Linked DNA regions of Homo sapiens. The protein of the gene in region 3 purifies or fractionates together with the protein of the main gene of each other region. This does not show direct contact. Each region holds a gene or a part of one and is shown on either strand. Other genes may lie near its edges.

The links. Proteins that work in one complex are often made in the same cells at the same time.
Region 1: the proteins of CCNJL (region 3) and C15orf39 purify together in Homo sapiens (affinity purification with mass spectrometry; 3 studies listed by BioGRID and IntAct, with this or other methods). This does not show direct contact.
Region 2: the proteins of CCNJL (region 3) and TRMT44 purify together in Homo sapiens (affinity purification with mass spectrometry; 3 studies listed by BioGRID and IntAct, with this or other methods). This does not show direct contact.
Region 4: the proteins of CCNJL (region 3) and PIK3C2A purify together in Homo sapiens (affinity purification with mass spectrometry; 3 studies listed by BioGRID and IntAct, with this or other methods). This does not show direct contact.

Annotation. Positions count from the first base shown.
Region 1 is NC_000015.10:75,204,882-75,209,293, forward strand, and holds part of C15orf39 (uncharacterized protein C15orf39), read left to right. Parts: intron 1-1,117; 5' UTR 1,118-1,167; coding exon 1,168-3,943; intron 3,944-4,412.
Region 2 is NC_000004.12:8,443,777-8,448,188, forward strand, and holds part of TRMT44 (probable tRNA (uracil-O(2)-)-methyltransferase), read left to right. Parts: intron 1-2,699; coding exon 2,700-2,814; intron 2,815-4,412. UniProt on the Homo sapiens protein: Probable adenosyl-L-methionine (AdoMet)-dependent tRNA (uracil-O(2)-)-methyltransferase.
Region 3 is NC_000005.10:160,308,971-160,314,819, reverse strand, and holds the start of CCNJL (cyclin-J-like protein), read left to right. Parts: upstream 1-2,255; 5' UTR 2,256-2,456; intron 2,457-2,847; 5' UTR 2,848-2,896; coding exon 2,897-2,962; intron 2,963-5,849.
Region 4 is NC_000011.10:17,197,075-17,201,486, reverse strand, and holds part of PIK3C2A (phosphatidylinositol 4-phosphate 3-kinase C2 domain-containing subunit alpha), read left to right. Parts: intron 1-4,412.

The DNA.
Region 1 (4,412 bases), on a different chromosome or scaffold from region 3:
TCTGCAGCTTGGGGGCTGGGGGTGGATCCAGGCTCCTCATGCTCTGGGACCTTCCTGCTGGTGCTGCAGCACCATCTGCTGGGCTGCCCTGACTCCTGCGGAGGGGGAGGAGTGGGGCGAGAGGGGTGTGGCTTGTACAGACTGATGTCCCCAGTTACCTCTCCTAGGGGACTGCTCTCCAGAGCCAAGTCCAGTATCTCAGCATTGGCTTTGGGCCTAGGGACCTGGGCTGGAGGCCCGACTCTGCCATTTTTGACAAGATCAGCAGGTCAGAGGAGTGTCACAAGAAATCTGTGAATTTGTAGACAATACTCAGATTCCATGTTTTGGCTGCAGTGGGCATCACTGTGGCATCTTGGAATAGGACCCTGTGGTGGGAGGCAGGAGGCCTGCTTCTCGTTGTGTCTATTTCATTGGTGACTTTGGGATGAATGGGTCTCCTCATCTGTATATGAGGGGGTGGCGGCAGGGTATGTCAAGTGACCCTGAGACCCAGTGCCCCTACAAATTCTGAAATCCCAAGAAGGAGGGGATCTTGGGAGTTGTATGGAGGAAAATCGAACAGAAGGGGCTCCTGGAGTGGGGATGGGTGGGGGTTCTGTGTAGAATAATTCATTAAACAAAGGGTTCTGCAGCTTAAAATATACGAGTTGGGGTCAGGAGCAGTAGGTGGTTCATGCCTGTGATTTCAGCATTTTGGGAGGCCAAGATGGGAGGATCACATGAGTCCAGGAGTTCAAGACCAGCCTGGGTAACATAGTAAGACCCTGTTTCTACATAAAATACTAAAATGAGCCGGGTGTGGTAGCAGGCACCTGTGGTCCCAGCAACCTGGGAGTTGGGAGAATCACTTGAGCCCAGGAGGTTGAGACTGCGGTGAGCCAAGTTCATGTCATTGCACTCCAGCCCGGGCAACAGAGTGAGACCCTGCCTCAAAAAATACATACACGAGTTGGAAACCTCTGTCACGTGGCTCATGCACTCACAGTCTTAACTGAGCATCATTTAAGCGCCAGGTTCTTAGGTGTAGCCGTGAGCTGATGAGAGCAGCAGCCCTCTGTTGCTTTGCCTGTAGCCTGTTTTCCTGACAGCCCCTGCCTTTCTCTCTCTATCCCAGGTCAGAAGTTGAGTAGCAGGGGCCTAGGAGGGCTCGAAGCCTTCACAGCGATGGCAGAGAAGCGACCCCTGAGAACCCTGGGGCCTGTGATGTATGGCAAGCTGCCCCGCTTAGAGACAGACTCCGGGCTCGAGCACAGCCTGCCCCACTCTGTTGGTAACCAGGATCCCTGCACCTACAAGGGGTCCTACTTCTCCTGCCCCATGGCAGGTACTCCTAAGGCCGAGTCTGAGCAGTTGGCGTCCTGGACCCCATACCCACCCTTGTACTCTACCGGTATGGCAGGACCCCCACTTCAGGCAGACAACCTGCTGACCAACTGCCTGTTCTACCGCTCGCCAGCAGAAGGCCCTGAGAAGATGCAGGACTCCAGCCCTGTTGAGCTCCTGCCCTTCAGTCCCCAGGCTCACTCCTACCCAGGCCCACCACTGGCAGCACCCAAACCTGTCTACCGCAACCCTCTGTGCTATGGGCTCTCAACTTGTCTGGGGGAAGGAGCAGTGAAGAGGCCACTGGATGTTGACTGGACTCTGGCGACTGGGCCCCTGTTGCCCTCAGCTGACCCACCCTGCTCTCTGGCCCCAGCTCCTAGCAAGGGCCAGACTCTGGATGGCACCTTCTTGCGGGGGGTGCCAGCTGAGGGGTCCAGTAAAGACTCCTCAGGGAGCTTCTCCCCATGCCAGCCCTTCCTGGAGAAATATCAGACCATCCACAGCACGGGCTTCCTGGCCTCCAGGTACACAGGTCCTTACCCTAGGAACTCCAAGCAAGCAATGTCTGAGGGGCCCTCAAGTCCTTGGACCCAGCTGGCCCAGCCCCTGGGGCCACCCTGTCAGGACACCGGGCCCACCCACTACCCACCACCCCACCACCCACCACCCCACCCTCCACAGGCCCTGCCTTGCCCTCCAGCCTGTCGCCACCCAGAGAAGCAGGGCAGCTACAGCCCAGCACTCCCACTGCAGCCTCTGGGGGGCCACAAGGGGACCGGGTACCAGGCTGGTGGGCTGGGCAGCCCCTACCTGAGGCAGCAGGCAGCCCAGGCACCTTACATTCCCCCACTGGGGCTGGACGCTTACCCCTACCCCTCTGCCCCTCTCCCAGCACCCTCTCCAGGCCTCAAGCTGGAGCCGCCTCTCACTCCACGGTGCCCATTGGACTTTGCCCCCCAGACACTGAGTTTTCCTTATGCCCGGGATGACCTCTCTCTCTATGGAGCATCCCCTGGGCTTGGAGGGACACCACCTTCCCAGAACAATGTGCGGGCTGTGCCACAGCCTGGTGCCTTCCAGAGGGCATGCCAGCCTTTGCCAGCGAGCCAGCCCTGCTCAGAGCCTGTGAGGCCTGCACAGGAAGCCGAAGAGAAGACCTGGCTGCCCAGCTGCAGGAAAGAGAAGCTCCAGCCCCGGCTCAGTGAGCACTCTGGGCCGCCCATCGTCATCCGAGACAGTCCAGTTCCCTGTACCCCCCCAGCACTGCCCCCCTGTGCCCGGGAGTGCCAGTCTCTTCCACAGAAGGAGGGCGCAAGGCCACCCAGCTCTCCACCAATGCCTGTCATTGACAATGTCTTCAGCCTGGCCCCCTACCGTGACTATCTGGATGTGCCGGCACCCGAGGCCACAACTGAGCCTGACTCTGCCACAGCTGAGCCTGACTCAGCCCCAGCCACCAGTGAAGGTCAGGACAAAGGCTGCAGGGGGACCCTGCCTGCCCAGGAGGGCCCCTCAGGGAGTAAACCCCTAAGGGGCTCACTTAAGGAGGAGGTAGCCCTGGATTTGAGTGTGAGGAAGCCCACAGCAGAGGCCTCCCCTGTCAAGGCTTCCCGTTCTGTGGAGCATGCCAAGCCTACTGCAGCCATGGATGTGCCAGATGTGGGCAACATGGTGTCAGATCTGCCAGGCCTGAAAAAGATAGACACAGAAGCACCAGGCTTGCCTGGGGTGCCAGTGACCACAGATGCCATGCCAAGGACCAACTTCCACAGCTCTGTGGCCTTCATGTTCCGAAAGTTCAAGATCCTCCGTCCGGCACCTTTGCCTGCAGCCGTGGTCCCGTCCACGCCCACCTCAGCTCCTGCTCCCACACAGCCTGCACCCACCCCCACATCTGGGCCCATTGGACTGCGGATTCTCGCTCAACAGCCCTTGTCTGTGACCTGCTTCAGCCTGGCACTGCCCAGCCCTCCAGCCGTAGCTGTGGCCTCCCCTGCCCCTGCTCCAGCTCCATCCCCTGCTCCGGCTCGAGCTCAGGCTCCAGCTTCAGCCCGGGATCCAGCTCCAGCTCCAGCTCCAGTTGCAGGCCCTGCTCCAGCATCTACTTCAGCCCCAGGGGACTCCCTGGAGCAGCATTTTACAGGACTACATGCGTCCCTGTGTGATGCTATTTCTGGCTCCGTCGCCCACTCTCCTCCAGAGAAGCTTCGCGAGTGGCTAGAGACGGCTGGGCCCTGGGGCCAGGCTGCGTGGCAGGACTGCCAGGGTGTGCAGGGGCTGCTGGCCAAGCTGCTGTCTCAGCTGCAGCGCTTCGATCGCACCCACCGGTGCCCCTTCCCCCATGTGGTGCGAGCTGGCGCCATCTTCGTGCCCATTCACCTGGTGAAGGAGCGGCTCTTCCCTCGGCTGCCACCCGCTTCTGTGGACCATGTGCTGCAGGAGCATCGTGTGGAGCTGCGGCCCACCACGCTGTCGGAGGAGCGGGCACTGCGGGAGCTCGCCCTGCCAGGCTGCACCTCACGCATGCTGAAGTTACTGGCGCTGCGCCAGCTGCCGGACATTTACCCCGACCTTCTCGGCCTGCAGTGGCGCGACTGTGTACGCCGCCAGCTGGGTGAGCATGGGGCAGCCCCAGTGGCCACCGGAGCTGTGTGAGCAAGTGACAGGTGTGTGTGCTGTGTGAGTGCGTCACAGCTGGGGCTGAGTGATTCCAAGGACTCCTGCCCGGGTAGGGGGCTTTAGGATGAGCTCTAGGTACCCCCACCCCTTGACCCTCCAGACAATCAGTGAGCACCTTCATAGCCTCTTTTGTAGGCTTCTGAACATGCCAGCTGCTCTGTCCCCATGGAAACTCCTCGGCCTCCCCTGGTGCTGCACCTTCTTGGATTCCCTCCTCCTCTGCCTGTGCCTTCTCCATCTTTGGTGCAGTGTTTCCGGCACTCTGGTTAGGCCCTGTTTTCTAGCTGAGATAATTTCCCTGATCTCCAGCCTAGCATCCCCTTTGTGAGCTCTAGCCCTAAATAACCCACTGCATGCTGGGCCTCAGCCCCTGGGTCTCTCTCCCACACTGAACTCATCCCAAA
Region 2 (4,412 bases), on a different chromosome or scaffold from region 3:
GGTGAAACCCCGTCTCTACTAAAAATACAAAAAATTAGCCAGGCGTAGTGGCAGGTGCCTGTAATCCCAGCTACTCAGGAGACTGAGGCAGAAGAATGACGTGAACCCGGTGAGTGGAGGTTGCAGTGAACCAAGATTGTGCCACTGCATTCCAGCCTGGGCAGCAGACGGGGACTCAGTCTAAAAAAAAAAAAAAGGAATGTGACTAAGAAATCTTAACTGTTAGTAGCAGGTGACAGGATGACATAGTGGTTAAGAACTTGACTTCTTTAGTTAAAGAACAGAATTCAGTTTGAGGCTATGTGGATTTGAGACAGATTACTTAATCTGTTGAACGCCTGGTTTTCTCATCTAGAACAGAGGTTTCAGTCGGGGCAGTTTTGATCCTCAGAAGTTTGTCATTCAAACATCACATGTTCTCACTTATTTATGGGGTTTAAAAATCAAAACAATGGAACTCGTGGACATAGAGAGTGGAAGGATGGTTACCAGAGGGTGGGAAGGGGAGTGGAGGGTTGGGGGAGAGGTGGGATGGTTAAAGTGTACAAAAAAAATAGAATATGAATAACACCTAGTATATGATAGTCTAACAGGGGGATTATAATGAATAATAACTTAATTGTACTTTTTTTTTTTTTTTGAGAGTAGTCTCGCTCTGTGGCCCAGGCTAGAGTGCAGTGGTGTGATTTCAGCTCACTGCAACCTCCGCCTCCTGGGTTCGAGCGATTCTCCTAACTTAGCCTCCCAAGCAGCTGGGATTACAGGCATGTGCCACGACGCCCAGCTAATTTTTGTATTTTTCGTAGAGATGGGGTTTCACCATGTTGGCCAGACTGGTCTCCTACTCCTGACCTCACGTGATCCGCCTGCCTTGGCCTCCCAAAGTGCCGGGGTTACGGGCGTGAGCCACCTCTCCCGGCCACTATTGTACATTTTTAAATAACGAAAAGAGTGTAATTGGATTGTTTGTAACACAAAGGATAAATGTTTGAGGGGATGGATGCCCCATTCTCCATGATGTGATTAGTTCACATTGCATGCCTGGATCAAAACATTTCATGTACCCTGTAAATATATATACCTGCTATGTACCCACAAAAATGAAAAATTTAAAAATTTTAAAAATCGAAATTTATCATTGTGTAGCGACAACAGTGACAGCAGATTTGGGGTTGCCACACTGGGCAGGGAGGGAGAGGATGCTGCTGGCATCTAGTGGGTAGGGGCCAGGGCTTCTTATAAACATGCTACAGTGCACGGGACAACTCCCAACAATAAGGAGTTATCCAGCCACACATGCCAGTGACACTGAGGCTAAGAAACCCTGATCCAGAGGATGGTGAAAATAATACTGGATGATAAAGTTGTGAGCTTTATTTTACTTTATTTATTTTTTGTATAAATAGGGTCTTACTATGTTTCTTAGTCTGGTCTCTAACTCCTGGTTTCAAGTGAGCCTCGCACCTTGGCCTTCCAAAGTGCTGGGACAACAGGCATGGGCCATCACGCCTGGTCCTGTTGCAGTTTTTAAATGAGATAATTCATGGAAAGAATGATGCATTGTGTCAGTCCTCTTCTCTCTGGTCTCACTCACAGTAAAAGCTGTACTTCTATGAACTGCAAGGCCCTATGTGACCTGGGTGGGCCCTGTTACCCTTTGATTTCACCTTCTACCACTTGTCACCTTGTCCACGCCACTCACCTCCATTCCCCATGCACCTGAGCACACGCCTGCCCTAGGGCCTTTGCAATTGCTGCTCCTGTGTCTGAAACACTCTTCTTCCAGGTGCCCCATGGCACACTCCCTGACCTCCTTCGGCTCTCTGCTCAAATGTCACCTAACTAGGGAGGACTTCCCTGGCCACCCTGTATTCCATAGCAGTAGACTCTGATTGTTAGAGTTTTCTCGGCCCCACACTGCTTGCTTTCCATCTGAATCCACTTAGCCCCTTCAGCCTCTGCTTCCTTTTGGCAGGTCTTGTTCTTTCATCTGCTGTGGAAGGTGAACCACAGTTGTGCATATTTGGCCTGTGAAGTGTATATTCCTCTTTAACAGAGTTTGCAATTTTTTTTTAATATCAAAGGTAAACACGATTGATTTTAGAGATAGAACTTTATACAACCAAACCTTAAGTATCCACACAAACTGACAGAATGCTGTAAATTTAGCTTAGGAATATGCCACTCTGCTTATATTTTAATGGGAAGGTGACTGTGAAGTCCGTACATGCAGCAAGGGCTCCACACAACATAAAGCGGTTGTTAGGAAGGCCTGGACTGATATCCGCTTTCCTGAACTGGCCTCTGATGGCTGAGCAGTGTTCTGTGCCTTGCTCACACTCGAAGATCATGGTCAGGCTGTGGCAGACACTCAGTTAGGGCAGAGGTCCCCTGTTTTCTCTGATTGTAGCTCTCAAGTTCCAATAGAGTCCACATTGGCTGGCTCTTCCCTCAGGTCCTGGCTCATGCATCTCTCAACAGATACTTGCAGAGAATGGCTGCTGTATGCCTGGCACATTCTAGGCTGTGGGCTGTAGCAGTGAATGAAAGGCAAAAGTTCCTCTCCTGGAGTGCCATTGTGAATAGAGTGCTGGGGGATTGAAAGCATCGTGCTTGACTCATCCCTATTTTTAATACTGCTTCTGATGAGACGGTAGCTAGGCAGTTGTAATTTGTCCTTCTTCTCTTTTTCTTTCCAGATGTCCTCAATGGAACCATAACGTTTTTGCCTTTGGAAGAAGATGATGAGGGGAACCTAAAGGTTAAGATGAGCAATGTGTATCAAATTCAGCTCAGTCATAGCAAAGAAGAATGGTAAGAGCTGGACAGTGGACTCCTAGTTTTATGGTTTCCATTGAGGATTTCTTTAGGTAGCCAAAGGATTCTGGGTTGCCAGGGCTTAAGGTCCTGTCTCTGAGGTGGTTATGGTTTGTAGGAATGCAGTTGCTAGCTTATGTGCCCAGGCCATGTTGCTCTTCCTGTTGGTGCCTGGCCTCGAGTCTGGGTGGTCACAGCCTGGCTGGGGTTTCTGATCTCTACCTTCCCTGTGGCTGTGATGATCAGCAGCCCTTAGCATTAGCTCTGAAGTCAAACTCAAATTTCTTTATTGTTATTGTTATTATTATTATTGAGACAGTCTTACACTGTTGCCCAGGCTGGAGTGCATTGGTGCCATCGCATTTCACTGCAACCTCTACCTCCTGCATTTAAGTGATTCTCGTGCCTCAGTCTGCACAGTACAGGCACCCACCACCACACCCGGCTAATTTTTGTATTTTCAGTAGAGACGGGGTTTCGCCATGTTGGCCAGGCTGGTATCAAACTCCTGACCTCAGGTGATCCACCTGCCTTGGCCTCCCAAAGTGCTGAGATTTCAGGCATGAGCCACCAAGCCCAGCCTATTTTGTTATTTTTTATGACTTAGTAATGGGGAATAGGTGATGGTTCCTTCTGTAGTAAGTATTCAGTGATACTTATTATAAAGTAGCGGTTTAATAAGCACCCTTAATTCCATATGGTATTTGGGCCTGTATAGAAAGTATAAAATTTAATTCATACCGTTTGGTATTTTTAAAACGAAAAAGTCAGAGGAGGGGTGAATTCATTCATGACTTGTCAGCTGATATTTTCCTGAGTGCCACATCCAAGCTGTACTTTCCGAAACAGTCTTGGGGATAATGTCTGAGTAACTGGAATGAGTTTGCCCGGGGCTTCCTAGAAAGCAGAGGGATGTGGCGAGAAGAGCATGGGCTTCCCACTAGCAGTGTGGTCTTGGGGATGTGCTCTACCTCCTGGCCCTCTGTCTACTCACCTTGAAATGGGTTTAATCATTCCTGAGCCTCTGAGGAGGTGGCAGGGCTGGGCCTCACATGGATCTGTTGCAGCCTTCGTGCTTGAAAGGGGTGCTCAGGCCCTGTAGCATGAAGCCCTTTGAGAACCATCCAGAGGTTGCCCCGAGTTGTCAGGGGATCCTGCCCTGAGGTCCCTTCCTGCTAGCATGCCCTTGTTGGAGAGTGAGGAGTGAGAGCAGACACTAGGAGAAGCCATGCTTACCTGTGCCAGGCACCTCTGTGCTCGGCGATGCTGAACTGTGTGCCCATTAGCCAGAAAGTGGTGCCTGTCTTGGGGGCAGTGGGCACCTGGTGCAGGGCGGGGTTGCAGGAGGTGCTTGGCATGTGCCTGCTGCGTTGGAGTGACTTTCATTGCTCTTTGACAAGCTACTGAGGACGTGGCTGCTGCTCCCATCTTCCCAGGGTGGCATTTCTAGTCGGCATCGGAGTGACGTTCACTGCTCTTTAACGAGCTACTGAGGACGTGGCTGCTGCCCCCACCTTCCCAGGGTGGCATTTCTAGTCATAGCCTCACCGGGCCGCTATTCCTTGCAGTCTCTGGGCACAGGTCACACTTCAGGG
Region 3 (5,849 bases):
TTTTAAAAATAACATCTATCCATATGAATTCCTTCTCTGACGGCATACCTACTCATGTCTTGCATCCATTTCTGCACGTAGGGTGTTAATGTTTTACATACCGATTTATCAGAGGTCTAGAAAGTAGCATCAACCTTTTGTCACATTTGTTAAAAATATTTTCTCAAATTTGTCGTTTGCCTTTTTGGCAATGATAATTGATGTATCTAGATCCTGCATATTTATTCAAATTTGTCTACTCACCTTGCCTTTGGTTTCTTCCCATGTCTTAGTATCTAGGCCTTCCCCTCCGTATAATTCGTGTATGTTTTCTTCTTATCCTCTTGTGATTTGCTTGTTTGTAGTTCTCTGAGTTCTTATATTTATTTTGGTGATATTTAAACAAGTCCTTAGTTTTACTTTTTTCCCCCAACCTAATTTATTAAATAATTTAGCCGTTTATACTTGTCCCAACAAAGTGAAATGCCACATTTATCATACAGTGAATTTTTAAATATATTAAATTTTCCTAGACTTTCAGTTATTCCACTGATGCTTAATCCATCCATTCTTGTGTGAACACTACACTGTTTTAACTATAGTGTTGCAATATGCTTTAAGATTTGATAATACAGGTCTGTCCCCCCAGTTTTTTTGTTCGTTTGTTTGTTGAGACGGAGTTTCACTCTTGTTGCCCAAGCTGGAGTGCAGTGGCACGATCTCGGCTCACTGCAACCTCCGCCTCCCAGATGCAAGTGACTCTCCTGCCTCAGCCTACCAAGTAGCTGGGATTACAGGCGTGCACCACCACACTCGGCTAATTTTTTGTATTTTTAGTAGAAACAGGGTTTCACCATGTTAGCCAGTTTGGTCTCAAACTCCTGACCTCAGGTGATCTGCCTGCCCTTGGCCTCCCAAAGTGTTGGGATTACAGGCGTGAGCCACCGCGCCCCGCCATCCCCCCATTTTTAAAATATAAATTTCTTAGCTTTTCTCGCAGATATTCTCCCATTTGAAGGTTAGAAAACATGTTAAGTGCCCCCTCCTCCAATCTACCCACAACCATTAAAATTTTATTAAATAGAGTAATTTGGGTTAAGTTGGTGTTTGTGCCTCTATTCCTTCAAGCCTTCTTTATTATGTTTCAACCTTTGTAATGTCTTCATTAAGAGCCTGCACATTTATTCAGTTTATTTTTAGGTATCTTACACTTTTAAAATGGTTCGTTTGTTTTACATTAAAACTGCTCTTCAAGGTCCAATTGAAGCTTATCAAAGCTGATTTAATTTTTTTTTCCCAGGTGTGTCTTTATGTGCAGGAAAGCAGTCAGAAACTAAAGGCTCTTCAGTCACAGTTGTTTACTGAGTGTTCACTTAATACCTGGTGTAGTGATTATCCCTTTACACGCATTATCTCCTTTAATTTTCAGCAGGTTGGTTTAACTTTTATTTCCATTTTACACACGAGGCTCTGAGTTTGAGGAACTTGACAAAAATCACCCAGTTGGTAAGTGGATTTGATTCCAAATTTGTGAATCTCCAAAACTATCACAAAAATCAATCAGCCAAGAAGGATAGCCCAATGCTATGCCATCAGATGGGCTGACTCAAAAGGATGACTTTCCAAAAGCAAGCAATTGAATTAAAAAGACAATGTTTTCCATCCACCGGACCCGGCAAAAAAAGACTGGTTTTCCTCCAATGTGAGGCATAGTTCATATTCTGCAGGAGCACAATAATACCAGTGACTTAGGCTCCTTTAGAATTAGGGACTCGTGGGTGAACAAGGGTGGTTTTTCTGCAGCTTTCACTGGAATTGTCCGTTTGGAAATCTACCTCCCCATGGCAGGGCGGGTTTCAAAGAAGAGGAGAACAAACAAAAAACAAAAACAGGAAAAAAAAAAAAAGAGAGAGAGAAAGAAAAACAGGTGGAACCGACGTAAGGATGGCTAGAGCAGTGCGCGCGGAAGGCAGAACTTTCTGGGGGCGTCCTGTCCGCACGTTTCACGCGTGGTGCGCGCAGGTGGCGCCGCGGTCCCTTTGCTCCCTGCGCAAGCCGGAGGGGTGCCCAGAAGGCTACCACTAGCCTCAGCGAAGGTGAGAGAGAAGCTTTCCGCCGAAGCGAGGGAGGAGGGCGGGCAGGAAGCGGAGCCAGAGCTGGCAAAGAAAGGCTCCAATTCCCAGCCCCCCGCCCCGCGGGGCGCGGGGGCGCCGGCAGCGCATGCGCGAGGCCCGGCCCCCAATTCCCCCAGCGAGGGAGGGAGGCCCCCGGCGGCCGGGAGCCTGCGAGCCGCGGCGGGACCCGAGCGCACGCAGGGGCGCGGCGACGGCGGGGGCTAGTCGGGCTGCGGAGGCGGCCGTCGGGAGTGCGGAGCGCCTCGGACGAGGGTCCAACCGCCGGCAGGCACCAGAGGGCACGGCTGGCTCGGCACTGGGAGGGGCCCGGCGCTCGCAGCCCCCCACGCCCAGAGAGGATGCGTGAGTTTCGCCCCGGCTCGAGGGCAGGATGTGGGAGCAGGACAAAGGCTGGGCGGCGGGGGAGGAGTTGGGGACGGCGAGCCTGTGGCCGCCGCCAGAGCCCCAGCCTCGAGCGAGCTAGCGGAGTTGACAACTTTCTCTGCAACTTTTGCAAAAGGGAAGATAAAAATTCTGCAAGTTGTTGCACAGCTCCATATCGCCCCGTGTCCGGCGAGCAGAGGGGAGGGGGCACCGCAGCCTTCCGCGGACCAGAGGCGACCTCCAGCTCCTCTGAGCGGCGCAGGAGGGGGCGCCCGCCGGGGCCCGGGGCCAGGGGCGAGAGAGGATAGGGACACCGGGGGTCGGAGCCCGGGGTACGCTCTGGCCGCTGAAGTTGCCCGTGTCCACGCAGGGTGCGCCCTGAGAGCCGGGTAGCCTCGGATAGCGGCGCTGCGTACGCGATGATGGATGAGCCGTGGTGGGAAGGGCGCGTCGCCTCGGACGTCCACTGCACCCTGCGCGAGAAGGTCAGTCCCTCCCTGCCCTTGTCACTCTCAAGACTGGGTACAGTCTCCTTCGGTCTCGACTTCGTGTTCTCAGGTCGCCTGCGTGGGAACTCAGAACTCCCGGGTGCCTTTTTTTCCTCTTACCCTTTACCTTCTCCCGGAGTGTCTGAGCGGAATTGGGGGGCGGGGGTTAGAGACTGGAGATGGGAGAGATTGAAGTTGGTTTTTCTGATAAGGAGCTCAGAACTCTGGGCCAACTAGTCAGAGACAGCCACTGTACCTCTAAGGCAGTGTTTCCTATAGTATTGCCACCCTAGGTTATTTTAAACCGTACGTGAAGGGGTCTTTAAAAAATATTGTGTATTCATTCTAATGTGTAATTTAAGAATGTGTATGTATCTAGCAAGCTCTGCGTTTGCGATTTTCCATTTATTGTAATAATGATGTCGCAGTTTATTTTAAAACAAATTTAAGTAAAAGTAGTAACTCTATATAAAGATAAGTGGTAGTACAGGGAATACATGGTTATGGCCAAATACGTGTATCTATGTGTATATCTAGAATGGGACCGAATGAAATTTAAGGAACACCTGTATAATTGAAAGAGGCTACAAAACAGGGAGGCTGAGGGAAGAAAACAAAAACTCCCCTGCCGGTTTGCCTCCTGTGGCAGAAGGTGGGTGGGAGCAGCTGAAATGTGATCCCTGCACACCCCTCCCCTCAAGGAGAGAAGGGCTGAGGGGCATTGGGAAGGTGGAAGAGTCCAGGTGGGCTGGAGGCATGGCCTGTGTGTCTTGCCTCCAGTCCCTGGGCTGAGATTGGCAAGGGGTGGCTTGGGGAACAGGTGTGAAGTAGTGAATGGATTGGTTTCCTAGGGCTGCCATTACAAAGGACCACACAAACTGGAGGGCTTAAAGCAACAGAAATTTATTTCAGCTCTGGAAGCTGAAGATCCCAGATCAAGGTGTTAGCAGGGCCATGACTCTCAAAAGGCTCTAGAGAAGGATCTTTCCTTCTTCCTTCTTAAATTTGCTGGTGCTTGGTCATCCTTGGCATTCCTCGGCTTGTAGGTACATCATTCCAGTCTCTGCCTCCACTGTCACATGGTGCTATCTGTCTGTCTGTTTTCTCTTCTTACAAGGATACCCGATCATTGGAGTAGAACCCACCCTAATCCAATGTGATGTCATCATAATTTAATTACATCTGAAAAGACTCCATTTCCAAGTAAGGTCACATTCTGAAGTTCCAGATTAACATGACATTTGGGGGGACACTACTGCGCCCAATACAGGGAGGAAAAGGTCTTCCTAGTGCAGTACCTGAGCCCCCACACAGGTTTCACAGTCAGTGCATTTGCTCCGAGTGTCTGGAGGAGTTCTGCTTAAAGGGTCACCAGCTACTCAGTGTTTTTACCTCATTGAGTAGCTGTCTTCCTGTCCAATTAATGCCTTTTTCTTTTCTTTCTGTACCTGCTGACCTGTCTTTGTCCTGCGTTGCTTGGCAAGGCTGTGGCTTTCATCTGTTCCCTTGGTCTTCTTCCCAGAACAGAGTGGCCAACGTGTGGCACATTCTAGGCATCTGGACAAGAAGAAATCCAGGTCTTGTTGGTTCAGTTGAAAAGCAAGGAAAGTGGTAGGGGTATGGTCCTGGCCCTTTTCTGGAGGAGGTGGCTGAATGGAGCTAGTGAGGACTGCCGTGGAAATTGGGCTTCCTTGTTTATCATAGACTCAAGTGGTTGTCATTTCTGCTCATAGCTTAGGAGGAACGACTTCTACCTGATTTGCCCCTTTCTAGAGGGAAGGATTTCTAAGAGCAATAAATGCCATTTGTTTAGTTACCTGAGAATGCCCAACCTTTTATACATAAGGGAGGATGTCCTAAATGTTCCTTCGGCTGCTCAAAGAAGCAAGAAAGGCTCCATGAACTGCTATAGCCATGTCATAGTGCCGTATGAGTTTACTATTGGGCTGCCCACCTCGGAGAGACGATGAGTTTGTCCCAGTTTTGCAGGTTAGAAATAGAAAGCTCACCCAAGGACTGATGGCCAAGGTCAACCTTGACTTAAAGCTGGCCTTATTAGGACAAATCCCAAGTTCCTTTGGTTATAATGTCCCACCTCCTCAAAATACTGCTATTGTTCTCCTTTACTTTATTTCCTCTCCCACTTCAAAGAAGAAAATGCTTCTTCAAAAATTTGGCTTCATGGAGTTTGGCAAGAAGAGTGAAGAATAGGGGAACTTAGTAGCCATACTAGCCTCGCCTTTCTTGAGGAATGAGGGCTGGCATTTTGTTTTTCTCAGACAGGGTAATTGTTTTTCTCAAATGTCTACTCTGATAATATGTTTCTAACACTGTAGAACAACTTTACAAGAGCGTGGCACACAGTAGACACTCTTAGTTGAATGTTGCCTGATGAATACAAAGCATGTTTACATATGTGCTGTGTAACTGTTTCCATACAACCACAAGCAATTATCCTCACCTGACCGACACAGGAGGCGAAGTTGAGATCACTGAGACGTTGGGAGCCCCAGTTTGTCAAATATGAGATTCCAGTCTGGCATCATACTACAGGGTATCAAAAACTTGACACCATGGAAACAAGTCTTGGTACTGCATGCACGCTAGTGATGGAAGTGAAACCCTGATCTGCTCATTTAACCTCTCTAAATCTGGCCCCTATCATCCATTCTTCCCAGAATAGCCAGAATTTAGATTGTGTCATTCTCTGCTTAAAGACCTCCAATGTCATCTCACTGCACTTAAAATTCCCAGTCCTTACCACTGCGTGGAATACCCAGCATAGCCTGGCTCTGGCCTGCTCTCTGACCTTGTCTCTTACCCCTTCCCTACCCTCCATGCCATTGCTCTTAAGCCACACTGACCTCCTTTCTGTTCCTGGAAC
Region 4 (4,412 bases), on a different chromosome or scaffold from region 3:
GGTGCGATCTTGGCTCACTGCAACCTCTGCCTCCCAGGCTCAAGTGATTCTCCTGCCTCAGCTTCTCAAGTAGCTGGGATTACAGGCACACGTCACCACGCCCGGCTAATTTTTGTATTTTTAGTAGAGATGGGGTTTCACCATGTTGGCCAGGATGGTCTCAATCTTTTGACCTCATGATCTGCCTGCCTCGGCCTCCTGAAGTGCTGGGATGACAGGCATGAGCCACCACACCAGGCCTAGGGAGGGGTTTTCAAGGCTTATTTTTTATTTTTATTTTTTAGATAGAATATCGCTCTGTAACCCAGGCTGGAGTGCAGTGGCACGATCTTGGCTCACTGCAACCTCCGCCTCACAGGTTCAAGCGATTTTCCTGTCTCAGCTTCCTGAGTAGCTGGGATTACAGGCGTCTGCCACCACATCTGGCTAATTTTTGGGTTTTTAGTAGAGACGGGATTTCACCATGTTGGCCAGGCTGGTCTTGAACTCCTGACCTGAAGTGATCCGCCCACATCTGCCTCCTAAAGTGCTGGGATTACAGGCATGAGCCACCGTGCCCGGCTTGAATCGCCTAGTTTCATCTGACTAGATCTCATAATGACATTTATCAGGCTAGAATTCTGTGTGTATTGAAATGTATGACATGATACTACCATTGTTAAGGATTCTTTTTGAAAAGTCATACTTATTAAGGTATAATTTACACTTAGTAAAATTCATCTGTTTTAGGTGTAAAGTTCTGTATAGTTCTGCTAAAACAGATGAATTACAAAAAACAGTGACAGTTGTGTAACTGCCACCACCACAATTAAGATACAAGATATAGAATATTTCCATCACTCCAAAAATTTCCATAATTATGCCCTTTTGAAGTAAATCCCTTCAGCCCACCCCTCACTCCCTGGCAACAGCTCATTTGTTTTTTATCCCTATAGTTTGGCCTTTCCCAAAATGCCATATAAATTGGCATCACACAGTGTATATAGCCTTTTGAGACTGGCTTCTTTCATTTAGCATAACACTTTTGAGATTCAATAACATGTCTCTTTTTTATTAATAAACTTTTTTAGAAAGTTTATAGAAAAATCATGAAGTTACCAATTTACAGAAAATTTGTAATTGTAGTACAGAGAAATCCCTTAAACCCTGCACCTAGTTTCCCCTATGTTTAAATTTATGTAAACTACTAATTTTTGCTAATGGTCAAACCTGCAAGGTTCTAGAATTAAGTTTGTTGAAAATGGGAAACAATATGAAGATTTCGATCAAGACGATGACTTTCTAATGCCTTTTTTTTTTTTGAAATGCAGTCTCGCTCTGTCGCCCAGGCTGGAGTGCAGTGGCGCGATCTCAGCTCACTGCAACTTCCTCCTCCTGGGTTCAAGCGATTCTCGTGCCTCATCCTCCTGAGTAGCTGGGATTACAGGCACGCACCACTATGCCCAGCTAATTTTTGTATTTTTGTATTTTTTGTATTTTTTACCATCCCAAACAAACTCTGTAGCTGTTAAGCAGTGACTGTTCATTCTCTTCTCAACCCAGCCCCTGGTAACCACTAATCTACTTTTTTTTTTTTTTTTTTTGAGATGGAGGCTGGAATGTAGTGGCACGATCTCAGCTCACTGCAACCTCTGCCTCCCAGGTTCAAGCAATTCTGCCTCAGCCTCCCGAGTAGCTGGGACTACAGGCATGTACCACCACGCCCAGCTAATTTTTGTATTTTTAATAGAGACAGGGTTTCACCATGTTGGCCAGGATGGTCTTGATCCACCTGCCTTGGCCTCCCAAAGTGTTGGGATTACAGGCGTGAGCCCCTGTGCCCAGCCTCTACTTTTTGTCTCTGTGAATTTACCTATTCTAGATCTTTCGTGTGATTGGAATCGTGTAATATTTAGCCTTTTGTGTCTGACTTATGTCACTTAGCGTAATGTTTTCAAGGTTCATACATGTTGTAGAATGTATCATTTTTATGGCTGAATCATATTTAATGTACCACATTTTGTATATTAATTCATTGATGGATACTGCATTTGTTTTCACCTTTTGGCTATTATAAACAATGCTGCTATGAGTATTAGTGTACTCCTATTTTCAGTTCTTTTGGGTATATATCTAGGAGTGGAATTGCTGGGTTGTTGTAATTCCATATTTAATTTTTTGAAGAAACACTAAAGTGTTTTCCAAAGTGGCTGTACCATTTTACATTCCCTTAGCAGCAAAGTATCAGGGTTCCACTTTTTCTACACCCTTGCCACCACTTGTTGTTTTCCTTTTTTCCAGTTATAGCCATTCTAGTAGGTTGACTAGTGATATTGAGTATCTTTTCATGTCCTTATTGATAATAAGTTGGCTTTTTTTTTTTTTTCTTGAGACGGTGTCTCACTCTGTTGCCCAGGCTGGAGTGCAATGGCATGATCTCAGCTCACTGCAACCTCTGCCTCCCAGGTTCAAGTGATTCTCTTGTCTCATCCTCCCAAGTAGCTGGGATTACAGGTGCCTGTCAGCACGCGTGGCTAATTTTTGTATTTTTGGTAGAGACAGTGTTTCACCACGTTGGCCAGGCTGGTCTCGAATTGCTGACCTCAAGTGATCCACCCACCTCGGCCTCCCAAAGTGCTGGGATTATAGATGTAAGCCACTGCGCCCAGACTAAGGTGGCTTTTTTTTTTTGTTTTGTTTTGTTTTTTATGAGGTCTTGCTGTGTTGTCCAGGCTGGGATACAATGGCTATTCGCAGAGACAATCGTAATGCAGTATAGCCTTGACCTGATAGGCTCAAAGGATCCTTCTGCCTCAGCCTCCAGAGTAGGTGGGAGTACAGATGCATGCCACTGTGCACAGTTAATGGTAGCAACATACTGATGCTTGTTTCAACAATGGTCAAGGCAGGGTGATGTTAACATTTTTTAAAAGGAAAAATAATTGGATGGAAACGTATTTTAAAATCGCTATTATATGCTAAGCATTTTATTATATAATTTTATTTAACTCTGAAAACACAGTATTATCTGTGTTTTACAGATGAGAAAACTAAAGACAAAGGGAGATCAAGTAACTTACTTTAAAAATCACACAGTTGGCCTGGCAGTGTGGCTGATGCCTGTAATCCCAGCACTTTGGGAGGCTGAGGTGGGTGGATCACCTGAGGTCAGGAGTTCGAGACCAGCCTGGCCAACATGGTGAAACCCTGTCTCTACTAAAAATACAAAAATCAGCCGGGTGTGGTGGCGGGCACCTGTAATCCTGGCTACTTGGGAGGCTGAGTTAGGAGAATCGGCTTGAACCTGGGAGGTGGAGGTTGCAATGAGCGGAGACTGTGCCACTGTACTCCAGCCTGGGAGACAGAGCAAGACTCCATCTCAAAAAAAAAAAAAATCACACAGTTTATAAGAGGGAAGTCTGATATTTGCTTGCTGCTACATGGTTCTTTCTCCTGCTATCACTGTTATATAAAACTATGAATTTAATCCACATGTTGATGTCATGTGAAAGTAAGACTTTTTTAGTCATAGAAATTGATGGAGTTTGGGGGAAAATTCCAGAAGTAGTCATGTCAGTTTTTCGTTATTTTTTATTATTCACTATTCAGGGTTTCTCAGTTGCAACTCAGTTTTATCTTTTTTCTACCTTAAGCCATGTTAAATGCAGGTATATACCATAACATTTAACACAGAAGCTTTACTGTTATCTGTCATGTTGGAATTGGGGTGATGTCAAAGTTTATTTAATGATTCATGTCAAGTGAATGAACAATGAAGTAGATCAAAGTTCAGTAATTATCTCCACAAAGCAGTACTACTGTTGGGATTCTGAGTTAGATTGAAAACTTCTTGGTCAGCAAAATGTCTTTCAATAGGGATCTCTTGCTGTGACTATATCCCCTTTCCTTGTCCCCCTCCCACATACATACAGTGATACACATATGCAGACATAGAAAATTATCATGGTTAGATACCCTGGTTGTGAATCACTTATGTGTAGAATGTTGCTCCTAAGGGCTGAAGACTACTAGTCTTCAGGAATAATGACTACTAGTGGATATTAAGCTATGGTGCAACCATTGCCTTTTGTCAAAATAGAATTAAGGCCTTTATTAATGTGCTTATAGTAGTTGTGCAGTGGATAATCGTTTTAATAGAGTAATATGGAGGCTAAAGAATGGAGTGGGGGCCAGGTGCGGTGGCTCATGCCTGTAGTCCCAGCACTTTGGGAAGCTGAGGTGGGTGGATCTCTTGTGCCCAGAAGTTCAAGACCAGCATGGGCAACATGGTGAAACCGCATCTCTACTAAAAATAAAAAATTAGCCAGGCATGGTGGTGCTCGCCTATAATCCCAGCTACTCAGGAGGCTGAGGCGGGAGGATCGCTTGAGCTGGAAGGTGGAGGTTGCAGTGAGCCTCCTGACCTTGTGATC